Regions from separate parts of the Homo sapiens genome. Here all the other regions are linked to region 3. Evidence: fine-mapped expression QTL. A gene starts in region 3. Each other region holds a variant in brackets. All regions are shown on one strand. Distances are between the middles of the regions. Region 1 overlaps LOC124904784 (a long non-coding RNA gene). Region 2 overlaps ZNF274 (zinc finger protein 274). Region 3 holds the start of ZSCAN18 (zinc finger and SCAN domain containing 18).

The links. PIP is the estimated chance that this variant, and not a neighbour inherited with it, causes the effect. A credible set is the group of variants that fine-mapping cannot tell apart.
Region 1: its variant is the best candidate, but not a certain one, in a credible set for the expression of ZSCAN18 in CD4 T cells (CEDAR, PIP 0.84).
Region 2: its variant is the best candidate, but not a certain one, in a credible set for the expression of ZSCAN18 in whole blood (INTERVAL, PIP 0.67).

The regions. Positions count from the first base shown.
Region 1 is chr19:58,173,600-58,177,839 of GRCh38, forward strand. It overlaps LOC124904784 (a long non-coding RNA gene), which reads left to right. Exons shown (of 2, transcript XR_007067360.1): 2 at 2,938-3,990. Among named protein-coding and RNA genes, the nearest start is that of ZNF274, 7.3 kb to the right of the region's middle. The variant C/A (reference allele first, on the strand shown) is at 2,548.
Region 2 is chr19:58,193,761-58,198,000 of GRCh38, forward strand. All of the region lies in intron 4 of ZNF274 (zinc finger protein 274), which reads left to right. Among named protein-coding and RNA genes, the nearest start is that of ZNF274, 13 kb to the left of the region's middle. The variant A/T (reference allele first, on the strand shown) is at 1,779.
Region 3 is chr19:58,096,422-58,100,661 of GRCh38, forward strand. ZSCAN18 (zinc finger and SCAN domain containing 18) reads right to left here and starts at 1,810. Exons shown (of 7, transcript NM_001145543.2): 1 at 1,753-1,810.

The sequences.
Region 1 (4,240 bases), 77 kb after region 3:
CCCACCTCAGCCTCCAAAAGTGCTGGGATTACAGACGTGAGCCACCGCGCAGCCTCACGTGAAAAAGACTTTTCTCTCAATTTCACAATCTGTCTCTCTGTCTCTCTCTCTCTGTCACGTTTTGAAATTCTGGCTTCCCTCCTATACCCAAGGGAGAGCTCACACTTCTCCCTTACCTGAGCGAAATGCCATCTTTCCCTTCCAGCACCCCATTCAATCCTCCACCAGGGTCCCCATGTCCTGGTAGCTGCTCCCTGGATGTTGGGACTTCACTCAGTTCCATTTTTTTTTTTTTTTAGGAGACAGGGTCTCACTCTGTTGCCCAGGCTGGAGTGCAGTGGCCTGATCATAACTCACTGCAGCCTTAATCTCCCGGGCTCGAGAAATCCTCGCACCTAAGACTCCTGAGTAGTTGGGATTACAGGCACATGTCACCATGCCCAGCTAATTTTTAAATTTTTTTGGTAGAGATGGAGTCTCACTATGTTGCCCAGGCTGGTCTTTAACTCCTGGCCTCAAGTGATCCTCCTGCCTCAGCCTCCTAAAGTGCTGGGATTGCAGGCATGAGCTGTTGACCCTCAGTTCCAGATCTTTGCTGGCAGCAAGTCCGGAAACTTCCATCCGGATCTGGTTTGTGGCCTTATAACTTAATGTGAGGAGAGGTCTCTGGGGTAGATGGGCTCCACCCAAGCAGACTTTTGTGCCAGCTACTGTGGCTGTGCCACCCACCTTCATTGCAGCACAGTCTGGCGCCTTCTACAGATGCCAAAAAAACCAGTTACACTCTTTTCCAGCTTTTCTCCCAGCCAGGACATGGATGCATGTGTCAATCCTGGCTAACAGGGTCAGAGCGAGTCAACAACAGAGAAGTCTTCCGAAAATGTTGTATTACTTTTTTTTTTTTTTTTTTTTTGAGACAAAGTCTCACTCTGTTGCCCAGGCTGGAGTGCAGTGTCGCGATCTCGGCTCACTGCAACCTCCATCTCCCAGGTTCAAGCGATTCTTCTGCCTCAGCCTCCTGTGTAGCTCGGACTACAGGCGCGCACCACCACACCCGGCTAATTTTTTGTATTTTTAGTAGAGAAGGGGTTTCACCGTGTTGACCAGGCTGTTCTCGAATGCCTGACCTCGTGATCTGCCCGCCTCAGCCTCCCAAAGTGCTGGGATTACAGGCGTGAGCCACTGCGTCCGGCCAAAATGTTGTATTACTTCTTTGTGGTAGGGAGAGTAATGCCCCCTTTCCTTCAGAGATGTCCTCATTCCAAACCCTGGAACCTATACATATGTTACCTTCGCATGGCAAAGGGGACATTGAAGATGCCATTAAGGATCTGTTTTTGTTTTAGAGACAGGGTCTCACTCTGTCACCCAGGCTGGAGTGCAGTGGTGTGATCATGGCTCACTGTAGCCTGGAACTCCTGGGCTCAAGCGATCCTCCTGCCTCAGCTTCCTGAGTAGCTGGGACCACAGATGCATGCCACCACACCCAGCTATTTTTGTTGTTGTTAAGACACGGTCTTGCTCTGTTGCCCAGACCAGTCTCAAACTCCTTGGCTCAAGCAATCTTCCTGCCTCAGCCTCCCGAAGTGTTGGGATTACAGGTATGAGCCACCATGCCTGGCCAGATTCTTGAGATGGGGAGATTATTCTGAATTACTTGGGGCGGGCCCTATTTAATCAAATGTCTTTGTATAACTTGAGGCAGGAATCAGAGTAGATGATGTGATGATGGAATGAGAGATTTGAAAATGCTACACTGCTGGCTTTAAAATTGGAGGAAGGGGCCATAAGCCAAGGAAGGCAGGTAGTCTCTAGAAACTGGAAAAGGCAAAGAAATGGATTCTCTCCTAGACCCCCCAGAAGGACCACAGTCCTGCTGACATCTTTATTTTAGCCTAGTAAGACCCATTTTGGACTTCTGACCTCCAGAGCTGTGAGACAATAAATTTGTTGTTGTTTTAAGACACAAAGTTTTGGTAATTTGCTACAGTGGCAATAGAAAGCAAATACACTTCCTGATGCCAACTTCTTCAGCCAAATGTTGCACGGCTAAATGCTAGACTTGGAACTGTAATCACCATCTTAGGACTGCAAAGACGTGTGCCTCAGAAAGAACCAAGGCCATACACTGGGGAGGGCTGAGCCAAAGGAGGGACAGTGACTGGTTACAGCTCATACTTGAGCCCAGGGGTCAACCGTAGAAGCCCTTACATCTGGATTTAATTACATTTTTTATTTTGTAATTTTTAGTTTTATTTGTGCTGAGACAGAGTCTCTGGAGTGTAGTGGTGCGACTACAGCCTCAACTTCCCAGGCTCAGGCGAACCTCCCACCTCAGCCTCCCGAGTACCTGGATTACAGGTGTACACCACCACACGCAACTAGTGTTTTGTTTTCGTAGGGATGGAATCTCACACAAAAAACTGGGCAAGTATGTTCCCCAGGCTGGTTTTGAACTCCTGGGCTCAAGCAGTCCTCCCACCTTGGTCTCACAGTGTTGGGATTACAGGCATGAGCCACTGTGCCCAGCCTGGACTTAATGAAAAA[C/A]AAACAAACAAACATTTTTTTTGAGTCAGTCTTGCTTTCTCACCCAGGCTGGAGTGCAGTGGTGTAATCTCAGCTCACTACAACCTCTGCCTCCTGGGTTCAATTAATTCTTATGCCTCAGCCTCCCAAGAAGCTGGGATTACAGGCATGCATCATCACACCTGGCTAATTTTTGTATTTTTAGTAGAGAAAGGTTTTTACCATATCAGCCAGGCTGGTCTTGAACTCCTGACCTCAAGCAGTCCACCCACCTCAGCCTCCCAAAGTGCTGGGATTACAGATGTGAGCCACTGTGCCCAGTCAGTGAAATTTAAGATCATGAATGGTGGCATACTGTCACTTCTGCCAAAACTACACCTTACATGATAACCCTTTCTTGCTCCCCACCAGCTTTTGCTCTCAAGTCTCGTTTGGTCATGCTAAGCCACAGTTTGGGGACTCCTAGGAGCAGCCATCACAGGTAACCAGTTCTGCTGGCTCAGGATGGCCCCTGCTGCCCTGACTCAGAGACACTTCCTGCAAGGCAGACATCTCATGCAGAGCAGAGGCCACTGCAGTCAGAAGGAAGGGCCTGGTAGCCTCAGAGGCACAGCCAAGGGGCTGCAACGATGGAAAGGAGATATTCCACAAGTCCAAGAGTGTGACATGGAAGCACACTCTGGGATGTGGTGGACTCAAGTGATCCATGCAGATGTGGATGCTGTCTCTCTTTCTCTGTTCATAGAGTGTGGCATGGGTCCTCTCTGGGTGAAAATAGGTGCCCAGAATTAATCACACACTTCCATTCAAAATAAACTGTGCCAACTTGCTGAACCACAAAATGATTTCCTCGCCATGGCCCCTAAATAACTCCGTGATAAGAACTGTATGCTATTGATGGCTCTGAAGTCCAAATTTATTGGCAAAAGCAAAGAACATGCCTGAACTAGTCATTTCTGCAGGCGTTTCTCCTTAAGATGAGTTTGAAGCCAATTGGTTATGTGAAGAATAGCAATCAGTTCTTTCTCACACTGGAGGAGGAGGAAGCACAAAAGAAAGTTCAAGGGTCAAGCCTCCCAAAAGGCTCTGTTATAATCCTATGTGCTCTTTCATTGTATCTAGTGATGAATTTGGGTAACTGACACTTTACTCATTGGCCATCTATCCTTGAACTTGATAAGCATTTTCATTTATGTAAGTTTACTTGTAATTCTTCCAAAACTTATCTTCACATTTCCCAACAAACTAATTTCAGACATTTTGTTTTTATGATTCTATTGTGACAGGAACCTCCATTTCAATATACTTGTTGCAGGTATAGATTTTGTGCATTGCTTTGTGGTGTTGATTTGTCCATCTTTTGTATTCTGCCTAGCTTATTGTAATCTTGATTTTTAAAGTTTTCAATTGGGTTTTTAAAGTATGTTAATGTTAATAAATGCATTTTTAGGTTTCCTTTCCCAATCATTACAGCACTCAGGTCTATTTCATATCAGATTGATTGATTTATTAAGACAAGGTCAAGCTCTGTCGCCCAGGCTGGAGTGCAGTGGCATAATCAGGGCTCACTGCAGCTTCAACTTCCTTAGCTCATGATCCTCCTACTTCAGCCTCTTGTGTAGCTAAGACTACAGGAGTGTGTCACCACATCCAGCTACATTTTTTGCTTTAATACAGATGAGGTTTTGCTACGTTGCTCAGGCTGGTCTTGAAC
Region 2 (4,240 bases), 97 kb after region 3:
CTAAAAATAAAAATAATAAGCCAGATGCAGTGCTGCATCCCTGTAGTCCCAGCTACTTGGGAGGCTGAGGCAGGAGGATTGCTTGAGCTTGGGAGTTTGAGGCTGCATTGAGCTGTGATTGTACCACTGCACTTCAGCCTGGGCAACACAGCAAGAAACGGTCTCAAAAAAATATATCTATATCTATATCTATATATCTATATCACATATGAGATAAAAGGGTCAGATGTGGTGGCTCACACCTGTAATCCCAACACTTTGGGATGCCAAAGCAGGAGGATTGCTTGAGGCCAGATGTTTGAGATCAGCTTGGGAAACATGGTGAATACAAGTCTCTGCAAAAAAATAACAAAAATTAGCTGGGTGTGGAGGCAGGAGGATCACTTCAGCCTGGGAGGTTGAGATTGCAGTGCACCACTGCACTCCAGCCTTTGTTTCAAAAATATGTGTGTGTGTGGGTGTGTGTGTGTGTATGATAAGGGAGAACAATTATTTCTGAGTTTTTGGCATTAGCCAAGGATGTGGGGATGTCTGGTAAAGACCTAGACTTTGCTGAGGGGAGGAAATAAGGGGTTTGTGTTTTCTGTGTTTTTTGTGTTTTGTTTTTTACCTTTTTTTTTTTTTTTTTTTTTTTTTGAGGCAGGCTCTCACTTTGTCACCCAGGCTAAAGTGCAGTGGCCCCATCTCACATCACTGCAACCTCCACCTCCCAGGTTCAGGCAATTCTCCTGCCTCAGCCTTCTGTGTAGCTGGGACTACAGGCACCTGCCACCACACCTAGCTGATATTTTGGACTTTTTAGTAGAGACAGGGTTTCACCATGTTGGCCAGGCTGGTCTCAAATCCCTGACCTGAAGTGATCCTCCCACCTGGGCCTCCCAAAGTGCTGGGATTACAGGTGTGAGCCACCACACCTGGTCTGTTTTTTACTTTTTGTGTTGAAATAATTTTTAATCTTTTTCTTCGGCCGGGCGCGGTGGCTGATGTCTATAATGCCAGCACTTTGGGAGGCCAAGGCGGGTGGATCACCTGAGAAGTTCGAGACCATCCTGGCTAACACGGAAACCCCATCTCTACTAAAAATACAAAAAATAGCCGGGCACGGTGGCGGGCGCCAGTAGTCCCAGCTACTCAGGAGGCTGAGGCAGGAGAATGGCATGAAGCCGGGAGGCGGAGCTTGCAGTGAGCTGAAATAGCACCTCTGCACTCCAGCCTGGGCGACAGAGTGAGACTCCATGTCAAAAAATAATAATAATAATAAATAAATAAATAAATAAAAATACAAAAATTAACTGGGCATGCTGGTGTGCACCTGTAGTCCCAGCTACTCGGGAGGCTGAGGCAGGTGAATCGATTGAACCCAGGAGGTGGAGGTTACAGTGAGCCGAGATGGTGCCACTGCACTCCAGCCTGGCGACAGAGTGAGACTCTGTCTCAAAAAAAAAAAAATACACATATATGTGTGTGTATATATGTGTGTGTATATATATACACACTAATAGTATGGATAACTCAATAGCTTTCACATTGATTGAAGTTTTTGAATTGTCCCATGTCTTAACTGATTCTTGTAATGACAGATGAATGAGAAGGCACCATAGAGACACTCAAGGGTTTGCAAATCCAGTCGAATACACCTATTTAGACCTAAGAAGGAGATCCACACAGCACATAAAAACATCCGTGTGGAAGTCATAGGTGTTTAGAATGGAATGCTTTACTGTGAGTGTGAGACGGGGAACTGTCTTCTAAAGTGGTCAGTTTCTCCCAACAGTGGC[A/T]TAGCTGTGCATCTCATTAATGGACAGAACTGGTATTGAGTTTAGACTTGGGCCATTTTGACAACTCTGTGTGCTTCTCGAGCTTCCCATGATAGCAAGAATGGCAGTCAAGTCAGCAGTCCCCAACCTTTTTGGCACTAGGGACCGGTTTTGTGGAAGACAGTTTTTCCGTGGACCTTGGGGTGGGGAGGGATAGTTTTGAGATGAAACTGTTCCACCCCAGATCATGAGGCATTAGATTCTCATAAGGAACATGCAGCCTAGATCCCTCATGCACAGTTTACAATAGGGTTCATGCTCCTGTGAGAGTCCAGTGCCACTGCGGATCTGACAGGAGGTGGAGCTCAGATGGTAATGCTCATTTGCCTGCCGCTCACCTCCTGCCGTGCAGCCTGGTACCAGTTTATGGCCTGGCAGCTGGGGACCCCTGGTTTAAGTAGAAGGGAAACAAATGCTAGGACAAATGGCATTCATCCTCAGGAAAGCACTGAATGAGGAATGATGCTGTGACAGTAAGCAATGTAGGGAAAATAGGTGGCACTCGAATCTTCAGCTCTCACTAATGTCCCTTCAAGAACCATTGCCATATATGTGGCTCTTGGGTGGAATACTTGAGATGTAAACTATTACAGATTTAGTCATTAGGAAAGGAATGCAGGGAAGAGACTATTATGAAGGTCATGATTTAGGAAACCCTGCAGGGCATTTTACATTTTTTACTTGTCAAGAAGTTAAGTAGAGGCCAGGCACGGCGGCTCATGCCTGTAATTGCAGCACTTTGAGAGGCCAAGGTGGGCAGATCATTTGAGCTCAGGGGTTTGAGACCAACCTGGGCAACATGACGAAACCCTATTGCTACATAAAATAGAAAAAATTAGCCACACATGGTGGCGTGTGTCTATAGTTCCAGCTACTTGGGAGGCTGAGGTGGGAGGTTGGCTTGAGCCTGGAAGGTGGAGGTTGCAGTGAGCTGGGATCCTGCCACTGCAGAAAAAAAAACAAAGTTAAGTAGGAAATGAGTCCTACAAATAAGAACTTAGCAGCTTTTTTGAAACATAGACCAAACATGAGTCTGAAAAATAAGTTTGATGAGGTGAGTGTTTTATTGGGAGGAAGAAAGCCAAATTCTTCTTGAGATTCCATCCTTTGTATAGCTTGAGAGGGTCACATAGGCTATAGAGTGATCAACAGCATACCATTCTTTTATCCAAGAATAAGATGGAGTAAATGTGTTTAGTTTGAAAAAATTCACTTTCAGCCTGTCTTTGCCCTCTTTAATGTTTTTGCCCTCTTTAATGTCTTTGCCATCTTTCACGGGACATTAACCAGCAAACACCCCAAATGAAGTAAGTCCTTTTCATGAACTTTTCACCATCTGAGAACTCACACAGGGAAGAAACCTCAGAAATATGATCACGTGAGGAAAGACTTCTGGCCTAACTCAGTCTTATCTTGAGAGGATTCATACTGGAAAAGTTCTTACATTGAGTATTACATCTAAGAGCTTCTGAAACCATGAGAATATAATTGCTGTGGGAAAGGTTTTATGCATAGCTCCCTTATTCAGCATCACAGAAGTTGTACTAGAGATTACCTGAGAACATAGGGCTGGGAAGCCTTCGGGTGTCCCAGAACTCACTGGCAAGGATCCCTCTCTGAACACAGCATTTTGGGAACCCCTTCAGTAGGAGTCCTCATTGTTTTCAGCATCAGAGGACTCATATGGGCAAACATCCTGTGAATGAAATCTGTGCAGACAAATGACCAGCCTTAACTCTCACCTTATGTGACAGAACGAAAAAAATATACACTGAAAAGAACCCCGTTGAATAATAAAAATGAAATGTCTCATCCTATTTTTATATCATGTCGTAGAGAAGGCAAACCCTACATAAAACACTGATAAGTATATAAATGTAGTCTTGTCTCTTCTAATTTGCTTATTATCTGACCTGAACATCTAGAACAAATATTTAAAATATGGATGAGAGCAGGTGTTCTTTTACTTCTGTATGTCCCCATTTGCTAACACAATGACTGAATTACTAGGAACTCAGTACATAACGTTGAGTGAATAGATGTCTGAAGAAGTTGCAGGAGACAAGAATATGTCTTCAAAGAGAAGACTGAATACAAGGCCAGGCTTTGAAACAAAAGGGTAGGTAAGAGAGGGTAAAGGAAAATCTTGAGAGAGTGCTACAAAGAACTCTGCGGGGCCCACATTCTTGGCAACTAGGTTGAGTCTGGAATGTTGGGTGGCTGTCAAACATGTTTTGGCTGGAATTCAGTGAAGCAGAGTCATTTCATGCTTTGTGATCTTTTATTGAAGAACACTTTACATTCTCTGCCACCTCCCACATATCTGATCTCTAAGACCTGTGTAAATCGTGATCCTCTTATCTGGGGATCACTCTCCCTGTGTTCTAGGGCTTGTACTCAGGGATAACTTCAAAGTCTGAAAT
Region 3 (4,240 bases):
CTTGAGCCAGTCCTGTAGGCTTTGCTGCACCCAGAGGCCTGGAATACAGAAGCTGAGGCAGAGAGCTCCACGGTGGGTGAGGGGTGGCTGAGCTGAGGGGTCCCAAGCCTGGTGGGTCTCCAGAGTCCTGCAGCAAATCCCCTTCATCCTGGGCTGAGCAGAGCTCAAGCCTGGTTTGGCCCTCCGTGGGCCCAGCCCTGGCCACCTGAGGAATATTCATCGCAGCTCTCCATCCCACCACACTCATCGGCAGGGTCTAGCAAACCACCCCACAGCCACAGGCCTGAGGATCAGCCAGGGAAGCTCAATGCATGGGATGTGGTTGTTGATGGGTCGCCGGATATTCCCAGGGTCTGCCCTGGCTTCATCCACAGATCACTTACTCATTATAAAAAGGGGTAAAAGTGCTTTTAAAAGAATGAAAAAACATGGAGTAAGGGTCGTCGTTCACATCTCAGCTGCCTTTTGTGGTCCCTGATCCACTCGCCAGGACAGACAGAACCAGAGAGATGTCCTGCGCAACTGGCCTAGGCTCCCCGAAAACCCGAGGCCAGAAATACCCAGGAAGTCACAGATTCAAGCATCATGCACAGAAAACAGCAACTCGATGCGACACGTGGTCCCGCTCTGACTCCAGGGCAGGAAACCATCCGCAGGACATGATGGGATGGGGGAAGTGAAATGGAACCGAGGAGGTGACATGGAACCAAGTGACTGTGCCACTCAGCCTCGCCCAGGAGTCAGCAAGGACACAGGCGAATATATGGGAAAGTGGAAGGAGGGCAGACAGAAATGGGGGAAGCGGGGAGGGAAGGTAGCAGGGAGAGAGAAGACAGGAGAGGAAGGAGCAAGAGCAGGGAAAGCCAGATAGTCTGGACGGGGGTAGAGGGGGATTGGGAAAAGGAAGGAGCCCAGGAGGGTGAGAGAAAGGAAATGGGGAAGGAGTGATGGGAGGGTGAGTCAGGCCCCCACCCCAACCCCCTGGGTCAGGACCGAAGCCAGTACACCCACTCTTGCCTCTTCCACGAGAGAGGTCTCCGGGGTGGGCGCAGACACCTAACTCAAACAGAACCCACCCCCAGGTGACTGGGGAGAGGCGAGATATTCCAAGGGTGGGGGCAGCAGAGACAATGCCCATTCTAGGCACCCCTTTGGTCCCCGCACCCTCCATCCCTTCCCTGCTCCAGCCCCTGGGGCCACAGCCTGCCCAGCGTCCCCCCACCACGGACACCCTCACATCCTCACACCCTCAGCCCCCACTTCCTCCCCTCCTCTTCCCTTCAGGAGCCTCCCCCTCCCTTCTCTTCCCCACTCAGGAGCCTCCCCCTCCCCCTTTTCGCCCCCCTCAGGAGCCTTCCCCTCCCCCCTTTCTCCCCCATCAGGAGCCTCCCCCTCCCTCATCTCTCCCCCATCAGGAGCCGCCCCTTCCTGTTCTCCCACCCACAGGGTGCCCTAAGCGCCTCCCCTCCACGAGCCTACACGGGGTGGGGGTTGCACTAGTTCCCTACCTGCCTGCAGGGCCCCTCACCGATCTGGATCTCAGCCACCTCCGGGGGGACCCGGCCCCTGCCCCGCACTCCACGCGAAGGGATGCCAGACCCTCGGCCTCCTGGACGCACAGCGGGGGCTCGCACCCCAACCCCGGGAACACCCTGGCCCCTTTCCCTAACGCTGCCCACTGAGGCGTCCTCACCGTCTACCCTGTTGGGGTCGCTCTCTGACCCCCGCGCTGCATCCCCGGGACCGACCCACCTGCTGCGCAGCTACCCCAGGCCGGTCCCAGCCGCCCGGAGCCCCAGTGCGCGATGGCGGCCGGCAAACTGCGCCTGCGCACTGGGCCTCACCGCGGACTACGACTCCCACAATGCCGCGAGGCTGTGCCGCGCACCGGGGCGAGCAAGGGAGCCGTGACAGGTGACAGTGCGCATGGCCAATCAGACGCGAGTGTGGCCTCCCGGCGTCCCGCCCACTCCGGCGCCTGCGTCATTTTGGGCACCATGGCAACGAAGTAAACAAGCGGGTAAATAATAGACCCCTGACAGCCAGAGACCCGGAGAAACAAAGACGGTGAGAAACGGAGAAACAAAGACAAAAAGACGCGCAGACCGGGAGGGAGAGAAGCATGAAGGCCCACAGACGCTCGGGGGCAGACCAAGACGCCCTGGGGTCCCCGAAACAGAGATGTACAGAGTCGGACACGGAAAGGGAGAGACCAGCTCACGGTTAAGAAAGGAGGGAGACCAGCCCAGGATCAAGAAAGGGAAAGACCAGCATGGGCTCAAGAAAAGAAAGAGACCAGCTCAGGCTCAGGAAAAGAGAGAGACCCAGAGAAAAGGAGCACTCGAGGCTGAGACAGATCTGGACAGAGATACAGAGACAGGGACCAGCAGACCCAGTACTGGGGAGACAAGAGGTGGAGACCCAGAGACACTGATGCGCTAAAATGGGTTCTACAGTTTCAAGGAGTGGATAGAACTCAAAGATTACCCACCCCAGGGATTCAGGAGCTGCTGAAATGAGGGAAATGTGAGTGGCAGCTGGGGTGAGGGCTTTGGCAAAGCCCCATATAAATGTAGCCCCCCTGGAAGGCAGGATAGGGCCAGGAGCTGCTTCCCATTTCAGTTTTCCAGATAGAGGCGCTTATGAGGATGCCATTTTGGTCGTTTTTGTGTGAACTGATTTTTAAAATGTATATCTGAACAGTTTATATATTTTAAATTTACATACACCACACATTTTGGTATTCAGTTTTATGAATTTTAACTCATATCCACCAACAAACTCGGGACAAAGAATAGCTCCACTGCCCAAAAATCCTCCTGCTGCCTCTTGGTAGTCACTCCCTCCCCACCCATAACCCCAGGAACAGCTAATCTAAGTAGTCCACTGCTACAATTTTGCCTTCACAGTGTCATATAAGTGGGATCATACAGTATGTGGCCTCTTCAGATTGGCTTTTTCACTGAACATAATTCCTTTGAGAGGCATTGAAGTAGTATGTATCAACAGTTCATTCCATTTTATTGAGAAGTAGTATTCTATGGTATATAGCAGTTTAAACCTTCTCCCACTGAGAGATATTAGGATCGTTTTAAGTATTTTGCTATTAAAAATAAAGCTGCTATGAACATTCGTGTACAGATTTTTCTGTGAACGTAAGTTTTCACTTTTCTGGGATAAAAGCCCAAGAGTGCAGTTTCTAGGTCACACAATGAACACGTGCTTATTAGTGTTGTAAGAAGCTGCCACACTCTCATGCAGAGTAGCTGGACCATTTTACACTCCCACCACCAATGAATGTGTGAATCCACTTCACATTTTTATCAGCATTTGTGTTTTGCTATTTTTTATTTTGGCCATTCTGATAGGTATGTACTGATATATCATTGTGGTTTCAATTTGCATTTCCCTTAATTGCTAACAAGTTTGAGCACACTTTAATGATTTTTTTGGCATTTGTATACCCTCTTCATTAAAGTATCTGTTCGTATCTTTTGCCCATTTTCTAATTTTTAAAAAAATTGCTCAGTTTTGAAAGCTATGTTTTTTTTTTTTTTGAGACAAGGTCTCACTCTGTCACTGAGGCTAGAGTGCAGTGGTGCCATCATGAATCACTGCAGCCTTGACCTTCCAGGCTCAAGTGATCCTCACCTCAGCCTCCCGAGTAGCTGGAACTACAGGTGTGCGCTACCATACCCAGCTAATTTTTTTTTTTAAGAGATGGGGTCTCACTATAATGCTAAGGCTGGTCTCAGACCCCCGGGCTCAAGCAATCCTCCCACCATGGCCTCCCAAAGTGCTGGGATTACAGGCATGAGCCACCATGCCCAGTCTTTCCAGTTTATTTTAATGGATATAACTCAGGAACTGCCAAATGGAAGAGATGCACAGCTAAGGTCTGGTCAGGGGCACTGAAGGTGCAGTGCATCCATGTACCGTCTGGGTGAGCCATCCTCCCAGCACTCAGATGTGTTCACCAACCCAGCTCTCTCAATCGTGGGGCAGAGAGAGGGTCCATACCTTCTTTAAGGTGACTATCCCCATCCTGAAGATATCTATGGGTCCCACTGGAGTCACCTCATTAGCATAAACTCAGGTGTGGTCGAAACGGGCTCCTTATGAATTGCAAACCCTATTCCTATTATTCACAAAATTCCAAGGCTTTTAGCTCTGTGCCAGGAACCAGGGATAAAGATCAAATGTAAGGGCCAGGCGCGGTGGCTCATGCCTGTAATCCCAG